Linked DNA regions of Homo sapiens: all the other regions are linked to region 2. Evidence: fine-mapped expression QTL. A gene starts in region 2. Each other region holds a variant in brackets. All regions are shown on one strand. Distances are from middle to middle.

Region 1 (5,152 bases), 280 kb before region 2:
GGTGGGAGGATCACTTGAGCCCAGGAAGTCAAGACTGCAGTGAGCAGTGTTCATACCACTGCACTCCAGCCTGGGCGACCGAACAAGACTCTGTCTCAAAAACAAAAACAAAAACTTCTGCTAAGTGAAAGAAGCCAGATTCAAAAGACTACATATTGTACTATTCCATTTATATGACATTCTGGAAAAGGTAAAACTATAGGAGCAGAGAACAGATAAGTGATTGCCTGGGCTTGGGGGTGGGGTGGGGGTTCAATCACAAAGGGGTAGGTAGCACAAGAGAATTTTCATGGAGTGTGTTCATGTCTTGATTGTGGCAGTGGTTTCAATACTCTCTGCATTTGCAAAAAAAAAAAATTAAATTTTTTTTTTTTTGAGAAAGAGTTTCGCTCTTGTTGCCCAGGCTGGAGTGCAGTGGTGCAATCTTGGCTCACTGCAACCTCTGCCTTCCAGGTTCAAGCAATTCTCCTGCCTCAGCATCCCGAGTAGCTGGGACTACAGGCGTGCGCCACCACGCCCAGCTAATTTTTTCTTTTTTGTATTTTTAGTAGAGGCAGGGTTTCTTTCACCATGTTGGCCAGGCTGTAATCCCAGTACTTTGGGAGGCCAAGGTGTATGGATGACCTGAGGTCAGGAGTTCAAGACAAGGCTGGCCAACATGGTGAAATCCCGTCTCTACTAAAAATACCAAAAAAAAAAAAAAAAAAAAATTAGCCAGGCATGGTGGTGCGAGCCAGTAGTCCCAGCTACTCGGGAGGCTGAGGCAGGGAGAATCAATTGAACCCGGGAGGCAGAGGTTGCAGTGAGCCGAGATCATGCCAGTGCACTCTAATCTGGGTGACAACAGAGTAAGACTCTGTCTCAAAAAAAAAAAAAAAAAAAAAAAAGACAAAGATTTTCAGACTGGGTAAAAATACAATGTCAGGGTCTCTGACAGTATCTTTTGGCAAAAGGCAAACTTGCTAAAAAAAAAAAAGTTCAATTCTCATTCTTACAAGATTATGCACGAAACCCCATTATTTAAAAATGAAAAGTATTTCTATTTTTAGATTGCTAATATGTAGCAGCAAATAAAAAATCCATACATATCACACTCAAATACATATGTACCACAGTTCTGTGTGTCTTATAAAACTGTAAAACATATGGAGATTAAGAATCAAAGAGGCGGTTGAATTTTATGTCTAAAACAGCAAAACAAGTCTCTGAATTTTTCCCTTTTCATCCAGCTGTTTTGCCATCATAGAGCTAATTTTAGAAGGCGTAATCTTCTTATAAAATACATGTAGTTAAGAAAAGTAGTGGGTTTTTTTGTGACTTCTAATTCAGAGTTGTACAGGGTGCTTGGTTTCTGAACTAAGCCAGCAGACCGAGAATAATCTGAATCATAAGTCTAAGGCTAAGCCAAGAAACTTTTAGCTAAAGAATCATAGTGAGCTTCATAAGAGTTGAACTCCAGATCCTTTTTATTAATGGGCTTTAAAATGCAGGTAAACTTCCAAACAAAGTTTTCCCTCAATCTGGGAAAAACAAAATGAAAATCATAATGTGTGATTCTTTCCTGCAAGTTGAATGACTACGTTTGCTCTGTAATGCATGTAAGAGGAATATACATGGTTGTTTATTCTTGCTGGAGACTTCAATAGTTGCTTTCATTTGCTTTCTTTTTCTGATGAGAATCAGCAACATGGACACACTGCCATTTTTTTGAGCAATAGTATTTTTTTTAAGCAATAGTATTTTTTTTAATGTAAAGAGTCAAACCCAAAGAGACCAATCCAAATGAAATAATTTAGACCACAAAGTCCAGACTAATTTTCCCCATTTCTCAAAATAACTAGAACTGAGTACACATCAAATCTTCACTTTTCTTTGTATTATATAGACACTGTCACAAATGCAAGAGATTCTTCACTTTTCAGGTCAAATTTTCACCATCCTTTGGTCCTGTTATATGTAACAAGTGAACAATCACTTTTCATTAACTATGAATCAAAATAGATTAAGTGAAGACAATTTTATGTAACTCCTCACAGCTTCAAGTGCTATATAAGGAAGGATTTAAGAGTGCTTATAACAGCTTATTCGGTACATGACTTTCCATTAAACTACTTAACACAAATCTTAATTTATAGAAAAATTCAACCAATGCCAAGATCACCTAAAGTAAGTTATTCCAACCAGTCAAGAAACCAAAAATCTTGTATAGAAAAAAAAAAAAAAAGAGCAAAGGAAACTGGTATTCTATATTGCCCCAGAATCGTGCTTATTCTGAGGGTTCAGTTTCACCTAATTGTCCTAAAATAGTGCCCCCAGTCACACGATTAAAACTATTTGATAGAGCATGAGACTGATGATTGGCTGGATGCACTGTGTGTGGTTAGGAAAGCCCTATTACTGAACTGTTGGCCACCGGCGTGTGACATTTATAAGAAGGTGGGCAATCTACCCACAATTGCTGAAAAAAAAACTTTAAAAAAATTCTTCAAGTTTCCACATTAAAAATAACCTTATGCATGTAGGAATGGAGAAAATGTGGAAGAGTTACTCCCATTAGGCTGGCCTTGAGT[G/T]GATATGCTGTGTTTACACAATATTTTGAGATGGCCAGATAAGCAGTACTAATGGCAGCATATTACACAGTTATCATGAACCATGTGTAGCCTAAGGAGAATTTTCAGTGTATCAGGGTGGCCCACATGCTGCTATTTATCATTTCAATTTCATATCAGAATCAAAACTGAGGAAAAAGAAAACACTTTGAAACCCAAGCAAGTCATCTGGGGCCTGAGTAATGAGGCCTCTTGAAAAAAAAAATGAGAGAGAAAGAGATTAACACATTTTTGACAAACAGGCTTTGGCTTCAGAGCACTATTGCAGCTGTTAAATTCACATGCTGATGGAGTTCAGGTACGTAGACATTTACAGTAAGTTTTTACCAATGACTTTTACCAAGTAGTTGCACACATACATTTTCTGAAGCTGCATTTTAGTGACTAAAGTAACACTTTAGACAACAGGATTATGTCTTAGTTGCACTGCTATGTCTGAATAGTACAGCAATTGAGAACTCTGATATAAAGAGGGTAAACTGCCACTTAAAGAGTAACATTCTCCTGAAAAAGGCAATAGCTTTCCTTAATAAGAAGCAACACATGAAGTCTAGCAGGCATTGTTTCATATATTCCATTTTGATTGCTTAAGTTTTCAACTGGGCAGTATTCTATTTCAAGGCCATACTGTTGCAAAACCTTGTTCTGTGGTTGTAACATAGCTGCTGTGACTGTTGCAAACCGAGAAGACAGCACACAGAGAGAGAGAGAGAGAGAGATTAGGAGAAAAAAGGATTCTTTATATATTTATTTATTTTTGAGACAGGGTCTCATTCTGTTGCCCAGGCTGGAGTGCAGTGGTGCTATCATAGCTCATTGCAGCCTCAACCTCCTGGGTTCAAGCAATACTCCCATCTTCAGCCTCATGTGTAGCTGGGACTATAGGCATACACTATTATGCCCAGCTAACTTTTTCATTTTTAGTAGAGATGGGGGTTTCACTATGTTGCCCAGGCTGGTCTTGAACTCCTTAACTCAAGCAGTCCTCTCACCTGAGCCTCTCAAAGTTCTGGGATTACAGGTGTGAGTCACCACACCTGGCCCAGGAGAAAAAGTATTCTATGTAACTTTCACATGAAGGTCTTTTAGTAAATAACCAGTTTTTTTGGTTGTTGTTGTTGTTTTGAGACAAGTCTCACTCTCTTGCCCAGGCTAGAGTACAGTGGCACAATCATGGCTCACTGTAGCCTCCACCTCCTGGGGCTCAGGTGATCCTCCCACCTCAGCCTCCCAAGTAGCTGAGATCACAGGCGTGGACCACCACACCTGGATAATTTTTTTAAAAATTTTTTTGTAGAGACAGAGTTTTGCCATGTTGCTCAGGTTGGTCTCGAACTCCTAGGCTCAAGTGATCCACCTGCCTCAGCCTCCCAAAGTGTTGAGATTGCAGGTGTGGCTAGGCATGGTGGTTCTCAGCAACTTGGGAGGCCGAGGTGGGTGGATCGCCTGAGGTCAGGAGTTCGAGACCAGCCTGGCCAACATGGTGAAACCCCCGTCTCTACTAAAAATATAAAAGTATTAGTTGGGCATGGTGGCACGGGCCTATAATCCCAGCTACTTGGGAGGCTGAGGCAGGAGAATCACTTGAACCTGGGAGGTGGAGGTTGCAGTGAGCCGATATCGTGCCACTGCATTCTAGCCTGGACAACAAGAGGGAAACTTCATCTAAAAAAAAAAAAGATTACAGGTGTGAGCCACTGAGCCTGTAAAACAAAAAAATTATAAGTTCTCTGAGCTTCTACCCTGAATGAGCCCTGTTTTTAATAAAGATTAAGGTGGTTGGTTCCTGCAGAGACTCTACAGCTTAGGATAAAACAGGATTAAAGGCAAGTACTCATATAAATAAATGACTGTCTTTTTTATAATATGAGAAAATTATGAAGACGAATGGAATAACAACAGTTGATCATCATTTATCGAGTACCAATAAGGTATATGATCCTACACAATTCCTTTTGAGGTTTCATGGTTTGAGATGGGGTTTAGGAATAAAAATGAGAAACAAGAAATCTATCACATAAACTAATTGTCTTGGGTCAATGTTATTATTGGCTGATTGAGGAAAGGGAATATGTCTTTGGAATTTCCTTTGTAAATGCCTACTTGTGTGGATATATATAGACATGTGAATGTTTTTGATGATGATAATTAACAATCATCCTATACAAACACATAGGTTGTTATAAACTATGTACTTAAGAACTGGGACAACTGTTCACAAAATGAGTGACACGTAGTGTAATAAAAGAGCTGATTTGTCCTTCAAACAATTATAGGCTTGATTATAAAATACTCAAAAGCGGGGAATGATTAATATATAGTTGGGTTTGTTTTTGGAGTGGAAGGAAGGTAGTTAGTTAAAAAGCAAACAAACAAAAAATAGTCAGGGTTTTCTCCCCAGTATCCCTGAATCTGGACTAGGATTTGTTAATATCTTAACAATTTCTCAGTTGTGAATAAAACAAAAAACAAAGCAAAACAAAAAAATAAAACAACAACAAAAAAACAGTCCTTCCATGAGTTACCTCATGTCCAGGCCTTCT
Region 2 (5,152 bases):
ACTCTTGTTGCCCAGGCTGGAGTGCAATGGCACCATCTCAGCTCACCGCAACCTCCGCCTCCCGGGTTCAAGCAATTCTCCTGCCTCAGCCTCCCGAGTAGCCAACATAGTGAATTACACGCATGCACCACCATGCCCGGCTAATTTTGTATTTTTAGTAGAGATGGGGTTTCTCCATGTTGGTCAGGCTGGTGTCGAACTCCTGACCTCAGGTGATCCTCCCGCCTCGGCCTCCCAAAGTGTTGGCATTACAGGCGTGAGCCACAGCACCTGGCCTGTTCCGTACTTTTTTATTGACTGCTGGAAGAACCCTCTCTAGACGGGGACTTTGATCCCCATCTACAAAAGATTTTGTTTGTTTTTTCCTATTCTATTAAACCACCGTGGAGCAGTAGAGGGAGACAGCACAGAACATTTACTCATACTCTGACCCAAAAGTATAGCCTCAGTCTGGATGAACACATTAAACGACACACCATGCAATGTCATAGCCTATTTAAAGGCATTCTGGCCACTACTGTCTTCATCTTTCAACAGGAAAACTGTTTATATTCCAGAAGCAAAGATTATATTAAATTCAATAAATTCAAGTCGACACTCAGAAAGCACCTACATTTTACCGGATCCACGGGTGATCCAAGCAGATGCCTGTTCAGAGGCAGAGAGAGTTAAATGGAGTGAAAGAGATGACAAAGTGCCATAGATGTTAAGGAGAAGTTTCCAATAAGAATGACTGTAGAAAGAACCTTCCAGAGGCTGGGCGCGGTGGCTCATGCCTGTAATCCCAGCACTTTGGGAGGCCGAGACGGGTGGATCACCTGAGGTCAGAAGTTCGAGACCAGCCTGGCCAACATGGTGAAACCCTGTCGCTACTAAAAATACAAAAATTAGCCGGGCATGGTGGCACGCGTCTATAATCCCAGCTACTCGGGAGGCTGAGGCAGGAGAATCCCTTGAACCCGGGAGGCAGAGGTTGCGGTGAGCCGAGATCGCGCCATTGCACTCCAGCCTGGGCGACAAGAGCGAAACACCGTCTCAAAAAAAAGAAAAGAAAAAAAAAGAAAGAAAGAAAGAAAGAACCTTCCAGAATGAAAATTCCAGTTTCTCAAAGCCCAGAATCTTTAGTTTGGACAGAGACATGAGGATACACAGGTCCTGGAGTCTCCACTACTACGTGCCTTCAGCTTGCTTACATTAAGGGCCAAGGAGCTCAAACAGAAATGCTTAATGTAACTTAAGAACTTTTTAAGTTCTCTGTGCAACTCAGCAAACCTGAGCTCACAACCTTCAGAACAGAGGGGGAAATCACTTCCTCCAGCTCTTGTGAATTTTAAAATTAAAAGTAATGAGAATGATTTCCATCACTGAACGGTTGCGAGGTGGGTGTGGCCCCCCACCCCTCCCCCTCCCCCACCTCCGGCAGCGCCCAGCCTCAGTAACGTCCGAGGGGCCTGGCTGGACCTCTCAGGCCAGCGGCAGGCATTCAGCTACGGCCCAGCAAGCCGCTGTCACAACCGCACCCCTGACCCAACAAGCTCATCCCACATCTCGAAGGGCCCCAGCCAACTCGAACCCCGACGGCCAGGCAGCCAGGGCCGGGCCTGGGCTCCATGAAGGCCGCCGACTGCGAACAAAGAAGAGGCCCGGGGTAGCCTGAGAGGCCCAGGCCGAGCTCTCTGGGGACCCGAAGGTTCCTGCAGCCCTCGGGGGGTTGTGCCCCCGGCCCGAGATCTGCAGATGAGCCTCGAAAAGCGCCAGCACGCCGTAAGCGCACCGCGTCGCCGACCTTGTTGGCGCACTGCAGGCTCTCCGGCGCGCACGCGGACAAAGGGGGCAGGGGTCCTGGCGGGTACCCGGAGCCGCGATCCCGCGCGCTTCCCGCCGCCCGACCCGGCCTTTACCTGTACGTCACTCAGCTCCACGCGCAGATATAGCTCGCGGTGTCGCTGAGCCCAGTAGACATGCGGCGTCAACACCTGATTCTCCATGGCCACACTGCCCAGGGCGCGGGGAGGCTAGGCTCGCTGCGCCTCGCTGCCTCAGGTAGTGCTCTGCTGGCGCGAGCAGAAAGCAGGCCTCAAACCCTAGCGCTCCTGAGCGCCTGCAACCCGGCACCTCGAGATACCCCACGCTCGCGGGCCGCGCCTGCGCAGTGACGCGCCGGGATGGCGGCGGCGCCAGCAGCGGGCCTTGGCGCGAGCCGGGCGGGGGCGGGGCGCAGGCGGGATAGGGGCAGGCCGGGGCACAGAGACGCCGCAGCTCGCCGCGGCCGCCTAGGGAATTGGAATCAGCGGGTGGTCTGCTCTCCCCACTCGTCTTCAGGGACATGCTTTAAAATAAGCTTTAAAATAAAAAAGGCTGGAGACTTATGGGGGACCGATCAGCCTGGAAAAGGGTTTGGGACTGGTGTCTCTGGACGGTCCTTCGCATTCTGTTTACTGAGTACCTACTGTGTGCCTGGGTTTCAAAGCTAAACACTGGAACAACAGAAGTGAGACACAGTCCCTTCTGTCTTAGAACTCCCAGCCTATTAAAAGATGCAAGTAATTACAGATGAAATGAGGATAATAATGGTGATAGGGGACATGGTGTGGGAGCAGCGTGGAAGAGCGTTCCAACAAGGGAAAATAAAGACCAGGGCAGCGCTGCCCAATAAAACTGTAGGTGATGATGGAAATATTGCACATTGCGCTCTTTAATACGGTAGCCACTAGCCACATGAGGCTTTTGAGTACTTGAACTGAATAACCGAATTTTCAATTTTACTCACTTCTGTTTTTTTTTTGTTGTTGTTGTTGTTTTGTTTTGAGACGGAGTTTCTCTCTTGTTGCCCAGGCTGGAGTGCAATGGCGCGATCTCGGCTCACCGCAACCTCTGTCTCCCGGGTTCAAGTGATTCTCCTGCCTCAGCCTCCCGAGTAGCTGGGATTACAGGCATGCGCCACCGGCTAATTTTGTATTTTTAGTAGAGACGAGGTTTCTCCATGTTGGTCAGGCTGGTCTCGAACTCCCGACCTCAGGTGATCCGCCCGCCTTGGCCTCCCAAAGTGCTGAGATTATAGGCGTGAGACACCGCGCCCGGCCAACTTTATTCACTTCTAATTTAAACTTAAATATCCATATTTTTGGTGGCTATTCTATTGGACAGTGCAGGAGACTGTCTCAAAAAAATAGGAAACTCAAACTAGAGACAACACTCATTTATGTCTTACTTAAGCTGTCTTGTCTGTATCGGGTTTCATCCCCAAGTTCTTCTGCAGAGAAGAATTTAATGGGAAGAAATATTTATATGAAAACTAGAACTCTGGGACAAAAATGGAACTCATATTCAATCCTGTTAGCTCCCATTTATTTAGCAAAGTGATTCTATTAGCACCCGTTTGTTTAGCAGAGGGATCTAACGCTGAAAACAAATTCTGCTAGCTCTCTGGAAACATTTAGCTCAAGAGTGGACAGAATAAAATATAGAGAGTTTTCATATAATGAATGTGCTGAGCTCACAAAGAGTTTATGATGATAGGAACTGAGGGCCGTGGGAACCATTGTCAGACATTTGAGAGCCAACCCTTGAGAACGGGATGGTGAAATGCGAGTAGGAATTTGACTGAGTAAGAACCAGGTAGGCCGTGGAAGCACAGGGCGCTTGCTTCGTTCACAGGTGAAAAGATGTGGACCAGGTGCAGCGTCTCACGCGTGTAATCCCAGCACTTTGGGAGGACGAGGCGGGAGGATCGCTGGAGCCCAGGAGTTTGAGACCAGCCTGGGAAAAATGGCAATACACTGTCTCTACAAAAAATACAACAGTTAGCAGGGCGTGGTTGGCGCGCCCCTGGGGTCCGAGCTACTCGGGAGGCTAGGGTGGGAGAATTGCTTAAGCCCAGGAGGCGAGATCGCGCCACTGCACTCCAGCTTGGGTGACAGTGTGAGGCCCTGTCTTAAAATTTAAAAAAGAGAGAGGGTTGTGGAAGGAGGTTCTGCTGCTAGGGATTAAAGGCATAGAGGAGAGAGGTCGCCCTGAATCTGGAAAGGCAGAGGGTGCATTAGGAAAGTCTTTGTTTGCTTCACTGAGGTGCCTATACTGTATCCCACAGACACATGGGAGCCAAGGAAGTTTGTTAACCTGGAGATTAGTAAAATCAAATGTGCTCAGCAAGAAAGACCTGTCAGAGAGGAGGAGGAATTGGTAGTAGGCAAAGCAATGGGAGACCAATGCAATCTGCCAAGAATGAGTTGATGAAAGCAGTGACGTTGACAGTCTTGAATTTTAACGATAAAATATTTTTTATGATAAAGGTATTTTATTGTATTGTGTTTACTACAATGCAGATGCAATATGGGGCACTTTTTAAAAACATTGAGATGTAGTTTACATATAGAACATGGGTAAATCTTAAATATTCAGTTTAAGCTGAATTTTTCTATATGTATATATCCATGTAATTATCACCTAGATCAAGATCTGGAATATTTCCAGTATCCCAGAGGTTATTTCATGTTAAAATATCTTTGCCTCTCAGTAATTACTATCCTGATATATCACCATAGAGTCTTTTTTGTCTGTTCTGTTCTTGAATTTTATATAAATGGAACCTACAGTGTCTGGTTTCTTTTTCTTTTTTCTTTTTTTTTTTTTTGAGACAGAGTCTTGCTCTGTCACCCAGGATGGAGTGCAGTGGTGCAGTCTCGGCTCACTGCAACCTCGGCCTCCCAATTCAAGCGATTCTCCTGCCTCAGCCTCCCAAGTAGCTGGGATTACAGCTGTCCGCCATCACGCCCAGCTAATTTTTGTATTTTTAGTAGAGACGGGGTTTCACCATGTTGGTCAGGATGGTCTCTAACTCCTGACCTCGTGATCTGCCTGCCTCAGCCTCCCAAAGTGCTGGGATTACAGGCATGAGCCACCGTGCCTGGCCCCTAATTTTTGTATTTTAGTAGATACGGGGTTTCACCATCTTGGCCAGGCTAGTCTTGAACTCCTGACCTCATGATCCACCCGCTTCAGCCTCCCAAAGTGCTGGGATTACAGATGTGAGCCACCGCACCGGGCCTTGGTTTCTTTCATCAACATAATGTGTATGAGATTTATCCATGTTGCTGAGTGAATCAGTAATTCATTCTTTTAGTTTTTGGTTTTGCTCTGTAGTAGTTGACTA
Region 3 (5,149 bases), 51 kb before region 2:
ACTTAGCATGATGTTTTCAAGGTTTATTCATGTTGTAGTATGTATCAGTACTTCATTCCTTTTTATGGCTAATATTCCATATGTCTATATGTATATGTCACATTTTGATTATCCCTCAGTTGACGGACATTAGGGTTACCTTTTGGCTATTGTGGATAATGCTGTTACAAACATTCATGTATAAGTTTTGGTCTGAACATTTGTTTTCAATACTCTTGGGTATATATTTTAATGGGAATGGGATTGCTGGGTCAGACAGCAATTCTCTTTAACTTACTGAGGAATTGCCACACTCTCTCACAGCAGCCACACCATTTTACATTTCTGCTAGCAGTGTATAAGTGTTCTAGTTTCTCCACGTTCCTACCAATACTCATTGTTTTCCTTTTATTATTATTATCATATAGCTATCATAGTAGGTGTGAAGTGGTATGTCTTTGTTTTTGCATTTCCTTGATGACCAATAATGTGCATCTTTTCCTGTGCTTATTGGCCATTTGTGTATATTATTTGGAGAAGTATATACTCAAGTTCTTTGTCCATTTTTTAATTGGGTTTGTCTTTTTGTTGTTGGGTTTTTTATATATTCTGGATATTATGATCCTTAGCAGATACATGATTTGCAAATATCTTCTCCCATTTTGTGAGTTATCTTTTCACTCTCTTTATAGTGTCCTTTGATACACAAAGTTTTTGGTTTTGAAGAAGTCAAATTTTGTCTCTTGCTTTTGTTGTTTGTGCTTTGTGCTGTCTTAACTAAGAGATCATTGCCAAATCCAAAGTCATAAAGATTTACCCGCTGTGTTTTCTTTTTCTTCTTCTCTTTTTCTCTTGAGAAACACATCTCACTACGTTGCCCAGGCTGGTCTCAAACTTCTGGCCTCAAGCAATCCTCCTGAGTAGCTAGGATTACAGGGGCACACCACTGCACCTGGCCCGTTTTTTTCTAAGAGTTTTATAGTTTTAGCTTTTACATGTAGGTCTCTGATCCATTTTGAGTTAGTTTTTTGTATATGGTATGATGTAAGGGTCCAACTTTATTCTTTTGCTTGTGGATATCCAGTTGTCTCAGCACCAAATGTTGAAGAGACTATTTTTTCCCCATTGAATCGTCTTTGCAAAAAAGTCCCTGGCAATAGATGTATGGGTTTACTGGGTACATTTTTATGAGGCAAGTTCGTTTCTGTCAGGGGATTTATTTTACTGTCAAGCCTTTTGAAGGAGGGAGTGCTTTACTAATGTTGAACTGACATTAACTCAGAAGGGATCCTCATCTTGACATTGTAGCTGTGTTCTCATTTTCATCTCTTTAAACATTTAGATCCATTCTTTTATATTATTTCCCTTTTTTACCACAGAATTCTAATGTTGGATTTTTTTTTTTACCCTTAATAGACAGATGTACAGAAGATTTTAAGAAATGCAAGGAAACTACCTGAAAAAACACAGACATTCTATAAGGTGAGACAGACAGAAGAGGATGTGCCCAAAATATATGGTTCACGACAGTAAAACTGTGAGATGGCAGTGTGAATATGGGCAGGGGTTAGAGATGTATGACTTGTGCCTCAGTTTTTTCAAATAAACTCAGTAAAAGTGATAGGTCTGTTCCTTCCCTAAAATCCAAGAATTGGAAGAATTTAAATGGCCTAATTCTGTACAGGCAGAAGGTTTTTCTGTGTTGGGGCTGCTGTGAATGAATGACTGATGGAAGCAGCTTAGAGGACCTGTGGGTCATAGCCCTGAACTCTCCTCATCACTCCTATATGGGTATCCAGGCCAACCCCAGGCAACCAATGTATGTGGCTTCCTGGATGGGGAATTGCCCAGAACATTCTTTTTTTTTTTTTTTTTTTTTTTTTTTTTTGAGATGGAGTCACACTCTGTTGCCCAGGCTGGAGTGTCGTGGTGCAATCTTGGGTCACTGCAACCTCTGCCTCACAGGTTCAAGTGATTCTCCTGCCTCAGCCTCCTGAGTAGCTAGTACTACAGGCACGTGCCACCACGCCCAGCTAATTTTTGTTTTTTTGTTTTTGAGACAGAGTCTCACTCTGTCGGCCAGGCTGGAGTGCAGTAGCACGATCTCAGCTCACTGCAACCTCCGCCTCGCGGGCTCAAACAATTCTCCTGCCTCAGCCTCCCAAGTAGCTGGGATTACAGGTGTGTGCCACCATGCCCGGCTAATTTTTGTATTTTTAGTAGAGACGGGGTTTCACCATGTTGGCCAGGCTGGTCTTGAACTCCTGACCACAGGTAATCCGCTCGCCTCGGCCTCCCAAAGTGCTGGGATTACAGGCGTGAGCCACCGTTCCCGGCCTAATTTTTGTATTTTCAGTAGAGATGGGGTTTCGCTGTGTTGGCCAGGCTGGTCCCGAACTCCTGACCTCAGGTGATCCACCCAAAGTGCTGGGATTACAAGCGTGAGCCACCCCACCTGGCCACCCCAGAACATTTTTATTGCACCAGAGACTCTGCTTCTAGGAATGATATCTAACATTACACATTTATGAATTGCAGAGGAGATAGCCCTGCAGAATCATATGCAGCTAATCCAGAACGATTGGTGAAGAGACTGTTAAGTTACAGGGGGTGGGGTAGAGTGGGGAACATTTAGGTTTGCTCCTTGATTCTCCCCTATTGTTCTGGTGTTTGGCTGGAATTAAATTAAGTGCAGCATAAAGTATGTCATTTGTGTCTTAGCTTTCTAATTCTAAAATGTGGCACACACAGCCAGCCTTAGGCTAGCATCTTAACCAGAGAAGATACATGCTACTTTGTCTGGGTGTTATCTCATTACCTTTATGTCACTGTTGTCTTCAAACTTAATTATGTAGTAAGCTGGTGAAATAAAACAGCTTTAATCAAGAGTTCAACTGGAGAGCTTCTTAGCCAGCCAGGCCCCTCCCTAA[AC/C]TGAAGCCCATAATCCACACAGTCCATCCTCCCTGCAGAGCTTCCTACAGTCATCAGCTATTTACTCATGATGACACACTTGTTTGGCCTTCTTCTTAACTTTCCACTTTTTTAACAGATGATAGTAGAAAGATGGTCAGAGAGCCCATTTCTCTTTTCTGGTTTTATATAATGCTACATATTAGAGCTCAAAAGGGCCTAGGGAAAGTGCTTCAGCCTCTGCAGTGGGTAAGGAAGGGGTTATTCTCCTCATTTTATAAATGAGGCCTTTGAGACCCAGAGAGGCTATATAACTTGCCCAGACCACTCCACTAAGGGGTTGTTGGGGCACTTCATATTTCTCTGCTTCTATCAGTAACCAGCCTTTCTTTTTGTTGGTCTTTCCACTCTGACTCCTCCAGGGCCTCCTCTTGAGCCTGTTTATTGTCTTAGCCTGAGGCCCCACCACAGTGGCATCAGAGGGTTAAGAGCGTTTTCAGATTGAGGGCAAGTCTTTTCCATACCTAAATAACAGGGGAAAAGTACTCCTCCTTAAAGTTAGGAGTAACGAAATGATGGATGCAAAGTGCTGACTACCACATGTGGCATAAATGCTCATTAACTGTGATGATGACGTTGTTTCATTCAGCTGTCTTCCTTAGCCTGCTTCTGGTCACCTGCAGAGGAACCACTTCCCAGTAAAACCATCACATTCTTGTTACTGGCATCCCTAAATAAACATTTGTTCTCATATAAAATTGCTCCCTAAAGTTCAGTCAAGGAGAACTTATGCTAAGCTGAGCACTTAGAAAGTATGTGTTAGGAACACATTTCAGGAGCATTGGTGATTTTCTGTCTTGTTTCAGGAGCTGAACCGTTTGCGAAAGGCCGCTCTAGCCTTTGGTTTCCTGGACCTGCTGAAAGGGGTGGCTGACATGCTGGAAAGGGAATGCACACTGCTGCCTGAGACAGCCCACCCTGATGCTGCATTCCAGCTGACCCATGCTGCCCAGCAGCTCAAGCTGGCCAGTACCGGCACCTCTGAGTATGCCGCTTATGACCAGAACATCACACCTTTGCACACGGACTTCTCTGGGAGCAGCACTGAAAGAATTTGAAACTGACTTTTGGAGCTTTCCTTCTTTTTTCATTTCAACTGAAAATGCTTTAGGTAAAAACCTTTCCAGTATGTTCACCTCTAGAATAGCCACCCAAAGACCTTCCTGAGGCTGCCTCAGAAGCACCACTTGCTGTTTTGAATGACTCTACTAGTATGAGAAGGATGTGAAGGTGGTTGGCTGGTTGGGCTTTAACTTCCTGGGATTCATAATTTTTAAGCTTGGAAGATAGCTGCTGTTCCCATGATGGGCACATTTCCTGAGAAGCTTGAATGACTGATGAGCATAGAGCACCCCTGCCTTCCTCAGGAAACCTGACCGGCAGGGGCTCTCTGGCTTCCTGAAAGCTTCACCTCTTCCCTCGTTTATATCTCAACTGTAAGGGCATTTTCAAGCTTCTGTTCATGGAATGAGCAACTCAGACTGTCTGGAGCTTGCTGAGTACAAACACACCACCACTAAGTTTCAGAACTTTCCTTAGAACTTGGGCAAAATGTGGTGGTAACTCTTAAGTGCTTTTGGTATCTCTTGAGATTCTAACTTTTAAAGAGCAACCATTAATGTGTAAAATGATTCCTATTATTCAAGGTTTTTTTTTAATGAAAATAAAATATTTGATTTTCTAGAAAATGGTTTCACTATGAAACTAAAGGTCGTTTGCTTTTGGTCTGTCTTATCACTTTAATATAATTTCAACTTTCTAAGTGGCATAGATTCATAAATCATGAGGTTTCCTTATTTCTGACACTGATTAGGCCTCATTGCCTAAGCAAGGTTCTGGCTAGGTAATCCTGACAGATCACCGATCCGATTCCAAAGTTAATTATGGTTCCAATTTATCAGCTAGCTTTATGACTTTGGGCAACTTCTCAAGGCTTTGTCTGCATCATCAGTGTTTTTCATTTGCACCACCTTCCATGTAACTCTCAGGCTTCAACCAGAGCAACTGTTTTTGGTTTAACATGCTGAACTGCTACATAATATTTTGCCTGAACAAAGGTCTTTATCACTAACAGAGAACCATTAGACTAAATTATCTTTAAGCACAGTCATTAGAATTTTGATTGTAAATGTTTTAATAGAAATACACAATCTTTCACTTTCTCAGACAGCAATAAAGGGGTTTGTAACAATCACTAAGA
Region 4 (5,152 bases), 230 kb before region 2:
GAGATGGGGTTTCGCCCTGTTGGCTAGGCTGGTCTCAAACCCCTGATCTCAAGTGATCCTCCCACCTCTGCCTCCCAGAGTGCTGGGGTTATAGGCGTGAGCTACCATGCCCAGCCAATTTTATTTTTTTGTCCAGATGAGGTCTTGCTGTGTTGCCCAGGCTGGTCTTGAACTCCTGGCCTCAAGTGATTTTTCTGCCTTGACCTCCCAAAGTGTTAGGATTATAGATATGACCCATCACACCTGGCCTGTTTTTAGAATAATGATACAAATATTAAGTTTAATGGGGCAGAGTTATGGTCAAAACAGTGTTCTTACTATATTAAGAAACAATGTAGCAGAAAATGTATTTGAAATTGGTTGTAGCACATCCATAATTCATAATTACATCTAAATAAGTCTGATATTCTACCAATAAAATAAATAATTTTCAAAATTTACAAGTATTTCTATATACATACAGTATTTTTACTAGAAATTTTTGTGACAACTGATGTTGAATTTTAAAAAATGTTTCAGCAAGTCAGTATTTACATTGTTTCATTGCCAATTGTCAGCAATAACATTTTAGAGATATTTGAAAAGTACATTTACCACTGCATATTTACTCCCTGAAATTTTTTCAGGGAACTTTTGGCATCCTCATTTTAAAAATACATATATCTATCCTGACAATATTTAGCAGTTCAAAAGGTAATAAGATTATGAATATATTATTTTGCTTTCATTCTTTTCACCCTCTATTTCAAGACACTATCGAATTTTTTTTTTTTTTTTTTTTTTTTGAGACAAGGTCTTGCTTGGTCACTCAGGCTGGCTGGAGTGCAGTGGTGTGAACAAGGCTCACTGCAGCCTCGACCTCCTGGGCTCAAGCAATCCTCCCATCTCAGCCCCACCAAGGAGCTAGGACTACAGGACTGCACCACCAACACCTGGCTACTTTGGTATTTTTTGTAGAGACAGGATTTTGCCATGTCTCAAACTCCTGAGCTCAAGTGATCCACACGCCTCAACCTCCCAAAGTGCTGGGATTATAGACATGAGCCACTGTACCTGGTGTTTATTAAATTCTTGACTCAGTTTATGCCCTTACCCCCTTCTCTTCCACTTCTCACAGACACACACATGTCAAGGACCTAACCAAGTTAGATGAATCTTGTGTCTGGGTGTAGCTGCTCCTGTTTCCTGGTTGTTAGTAGATATTCCATGTTGGTTAAAGCTGTGGTTTCTTCCTCTTGAGGTGCTTATGATTTCTGTGCTTGTTTCCCCGCAGAAGCTATTGACTCTTACTGAACTTCATTTTGTGTGTGCATGTGTCCAGTGTTAAAGCTAACCTATAGTGCTTGGTACAATACAGTTGGTCTGGCTCTACTCTTAAGACTTTGTCGGTGGCATCATCTTTCCATCTAGTGTTTAAAATGACTCATAATTACAAGTTACTAAATTACTTAATTTAAAAAAATAAGATACTGGCATATTGAATTCTGTAATATGACATTGCTTATTCTCTTGTTCAGAAGAATTTGGTTCCTTGGTGAGATTTGATATAAATGATTCTATGTAAGTACATTTGCCCCTTGGTATCCTCCATGGATTAGTTCCAGGATACCCCCAACCTCCACCCGATGGATACCAAAATCCACATATACTTAAGCCCCTTACGTAAAATGGTGTGGTATTTGCACATAATCTACACACATCCTCCTGTATACTTTAAATCACCTCTAGATTATCTATAATACCTAATTCAATTAAATGCTATATAAAGTTATACCGAATTATTTTGTTAAATTTGTATTACATTTTTTGTTGTATCATTCATTCATTCATTCATTGGAGATAGAGCTTTACTCTGTTACCCAGGCTGGAGCACAGTGGTGTGATCAGGGCTCACTGCAGCCTCAGCTTCCTGGGCTCAAGTGATTCTCGTGCCTCAGTCTCCTGAGTAGCTGAGACTACAGGCACGTGCCACCCTGCCTGGCACTAACTTTCTTCTTTTTTTTTTAGAGATGGGGGCCTCACTATATTGCCCAGGCTGGCTTTGAACTCTTGGGCTTAAGCAATCCTCCTGCCTTGGCCTCTCAAAGTGCTGGGATTACAGACGTGAGCCACTGAGCCCAGTCTGTTATTTTTATTGTTTTTGAAAAACATCTTTTCAGGCCATGTGCGGTGGCTCACGCCTGTAATCCCAGCACTTTGGGAGGCCGAGGCAGGCAGCTCACCTGAGGTTGGGAGTTCGAGACCAGGCTGACCAATATGGAGAAACCTGGTCTCTACTGAAAATACAAAATTAGCTGGGCATGGTGGCACATGCCTGTAATCCCGGCTACTCGGGAGGCTGAGGCAGGAGAATCTCTTGAACCCAGGAGGTGGAGGTTGCGGTGAGCCGAGATCGAGCCACTGCACTCCAGCCTGGGCAACAAGAGCGAAACTCTTGTCTCAAAAACAACAAC[A/G]ATAACAACAACAAAAAACATCTTTTCAATCCATGGTATGGATGTGGAACTCATGGATACAGAAGGCTGACTGTAGTATCTTTGAAATTTGTAATAAAGGGAAAGTACTTTTGGGTATTGACTTCTTTGAAACTTTTTTTTATATGGAAGTTACTTGAGTCTATATTTGAATTATGTTAAATGTATACATTTTTCCCCTGTGAATGAGGCTCTGTACAGTGCCCCAGAAATAGTCATGTTGTTCTTTCTCACACTCTTTGCCCTGTACACATTTCCTCTTTTGTACCCTTATTTATTCTTCTTGCTTTCTTTTTTTCCCCCTTATCTGCTAGTTTTTTCTTTTTTTTTCTCATTGCCTCTCTTCAGCATGTTTTGTTTTTAAAGTATGTATTTATTCTTTACTGAAATCTTGTTTTTAAAAATTGCTTATTGGCTCTTAACCACAAGAAAACAATAAATGCAATCAGTTTAGTAATTATCACTGTTAACAGAACTTTAAGTATCCACAGGCATATTGGGGGAAATATTTGATTGGAATGAATTTAAGTCCAATTCTTACTGTTTTCAATACAGTTATTTCTCAAACTCTGAGGCTGCGGAGTTCACACATTGAAATCTGTCATCTTTTTCAGAGAGAAACTTTCGGTAATGTGTAAGTAGTTTTTGGCTTTCATTTTGATTTGTTTCAGTTAGCTATTTCCTGTGTTAAACACAGTGAAACCTTAGTTTTCCAGAAGTCTTAATAATTTGGAATATATTCTCCATGTAATAATTATGGGTAACAAATGATACAAAATAATTCATTGAAAGATGTCTCAGGATGTGCCTTGGATCACAATTAATTCAACACCATTTATTAGAGACAAAATCTTCAATGTGAAGTATACGGTTCCCTTTTAGTAGTTATTTCCTGCGTTCTATTGTGAATGAGTTCAAATTATTAAATTTTGTGAAAAATACCCAAAAGAACTAATGAAAAGGAATTTTATGAATAAATTTATCTCAAATATTTACTTATAATAGCTAGTTATTTCCAAGGATAAGGTGGTAGTTCTCAAAAAAACTTATTAAATATATGTTTTCATGATAGTACTATATCTCTTCTGTTTCCGCTTTTTTTTTGAGACAGAGCCTCCCTCTGTTGCCCAGGCTGGAGTGCAGTGGCGTTGATCTTGGCCCATTGCAACCTCTGCCTACAGCGTTCAGGTGATTCTTGTTCCTCAGCCTCTCAAGTAGCTGGGATCATAGGCATGCACCATCATGCCTGGCTAATTTTTGTATTTTTGGTAGAAACGAGGTTTCACCATGTTGGCCAGGCTGGTCTTGAACTCCTGACCTCAAGTGATCTGCCCATCTCGGCCTCCAAAAGTGCTGGGATTATAGGCATGAGCCACTCTGCCCGGCCTCTTACCCTTCTTTCTACGTAGCAAGACATAAAACTATTTTATGCAATAGTGACTATCTGCTTTAGTTTGCCTGCTTTAGTTTGTTTATTTATTTATTTATTTATTATTTTGTGACAGAGTCTCACTCTTGCCCAGGCTGGAGTGCAGTGGCATGATCTCAGCTCACTGCAACCTCCGCCTCCCAGGTTCAAGCAATTCCCCTGCCTCAGCCTCCTGAGTAGCTGGGATTACAGGCGTGCGCCACCATGCCCCGCTAATTTTTTGTATTTTAAGTAGAGACGGGGTTTCACCGTGTTAGCCAGCCTGGTCTCGAACTCCTAACCTCAAGTGATCTGCCCGCCTTGGCCTTCCAAAGTGCTGGGATTACAGGCATGAGCCACCACGCCTGGCCATGCTTTAGTTTAAATAACATAAAGTTAGCATCTAGGAAAAAGGAGGATGTTTTAGTTTCTTCATTATGATGGAATGAAAATACTTTACCAGAGTAATTTTTAAGGTTATGTGTATTTAGAGCTTATAATATAAAATTCATGTACACACGAAAGCACATAAATAAAGGCTGATATAACCTTTGACCTAATAATTCTATTTCAACAAATGTATCCTGAAGAAATACTAGAGTTGTGTCCAGAGGTTTATCAAGATTATTCATTGTACCCTTTAAAAAAAATTAGCAAAATAAGTAGAAGTAATAAATGATCTACAGTAAGCACATAGGTCAAAAATGGTATATCCATAAAATAAAATACTATGCAGCCCTTTAAAAATTGTTTTCAAAGACTAATGAACTGGAGAAAAAAAGTTAAACACAAAAGTCCTTTTGTTATTCTGCAACTTTCTTAAATAAATAGATGGTCAATTGGGTAAAACTGCTCTTTTTTTGGAGCACTTGTTATATGCAACGAGCTGAGGGTGATAAGTCAGCATTTAACAGTCTTCTCAGAACAGATTGTTAGCACTTTCTTTTTAAGTGTCCATCTAGGAGGCATTTCTGAAAAGGTTAAGCCCTTTATTATATGTAGAAATCCTATATGTAAGGAAATTGCTGCATAGGCGCCATTAGTATGTAAATAAAACAAGTAGAAACATTTAATCTTCTTTAGTCCCATTTTTTTTCCTTTTTTTTTCCAGATGGAGTCTCGCTCGGTCGCCCAGGCTGGAGTGCAGTGGCGCGATCTTGTCTCACTGCAACCTCCGCCTCCTGGGTTCAAGCAATTCTCCTGCCTCAGCCTCCCGAGTAGCTGGGACTACAGGCACATGCCACCACACCTGACTAATTTTTGTTATTTTTAG

Which allele goes with the higher level. Positions count from the first base shown, and alleles are read on the strand shown. Sizes are in standard deviations (SD) of each study's normalised expression. Not every link is listed here.
With allele G in place of T in region 1, the expression in lymphoblastoid cells of the gene that starts at base 2,157 in region 2 is lower (small effect, 0.40 SD a copy in GTEx).

Evidence for each region. PIP is the estimated chance that this variant, and not a neighbour inherited with it, causes the effect. A credible set is the group of variants that fine-mapping cannot tell apart.
Region 1: its variant is the best candidate, but not a certain one, in a credible set for the expression of HACD3 in lymphoblastoid cells (GTEx, PIP 0.62).
Region 3: its variant is the best candidate, but not a certain one, in a credible set for the expression of HACD3 in lung (TOPMed, PIP 0.76).
Region 4: its variant is the best candidate, but not a certain one, in a credible set for the expression of HACD3 in lymphoblastoid cells (GEUVADIS, PIP 0.65).

Annotation. Positions count from the first base shown.
Region 1 is chr15:65,802,792-65,807,943 of GRCh38, reverse strand. The region is part of intron 1 of LOC105370866 (a long non-coding RNA gene); the gene reads right to left. Among named protein-coding and RNA genes, the nearest start is that of DENND4A, 13 kb to the right of the region's middle. The variant G/T (reference allele first, on the strand shown) is at 2,571.
Region 2 is chr15:65,527,468-65,532,619 of GRCh38, reverse strand. HACD3 (3-hydroxyacyl-CoA dehydratase 3) reads right to left here and starts at 2,157. Exons shown (of 11, transcript NM_016395.4): 1 at 1,902-2,157. The coding sequence starts at 1,988. RefSeq lists a silencer at 2,075-2,294 and an enhancer at 3,333-3,833.
Region 3 is chr15:65,578,266-65,583,414 of GRCh38, reverse strand. INTS14 (integrator complex subunit 14) reads left to right here. Exons shown (of 12, transcript NM_001394796.1): 11 at 1,396-1,461; 12 at 3,756-4,658. The coding sequence ends at 4,007. It overlaps HACD3 (3-hydroxyacyl-CoA dehydratase 3), which reads right to left. Exons shown (of 11, transcript NM_016395.4): 11 at 5,066-5,149. Among named protein-coding and RNA genes, the nearest start is that of INTS14, 30 kb to the left of the region's middle. RefSeq lists a silencer at 4,110-4,404 and an enhancer at 3,963-4,541. The variant AC/C (reference allele first, on the strand shown) is at 2,910.
Region 4 is chr15:65,759,313-65,764,464 of GRCh38, reverse strand. It overlaps DENND4A (DENN domain containing 4A), which reads left to right. Exons shown (of 33, transcript NM_001320835.1): 2 at 3,027-3,105. Among named protein-coding and RNA genes, the nearest start is that of DENND4A, 30 kb to the left of the region's middle. The variant A/G (reference allele first, on the strand shown) is at 2,454.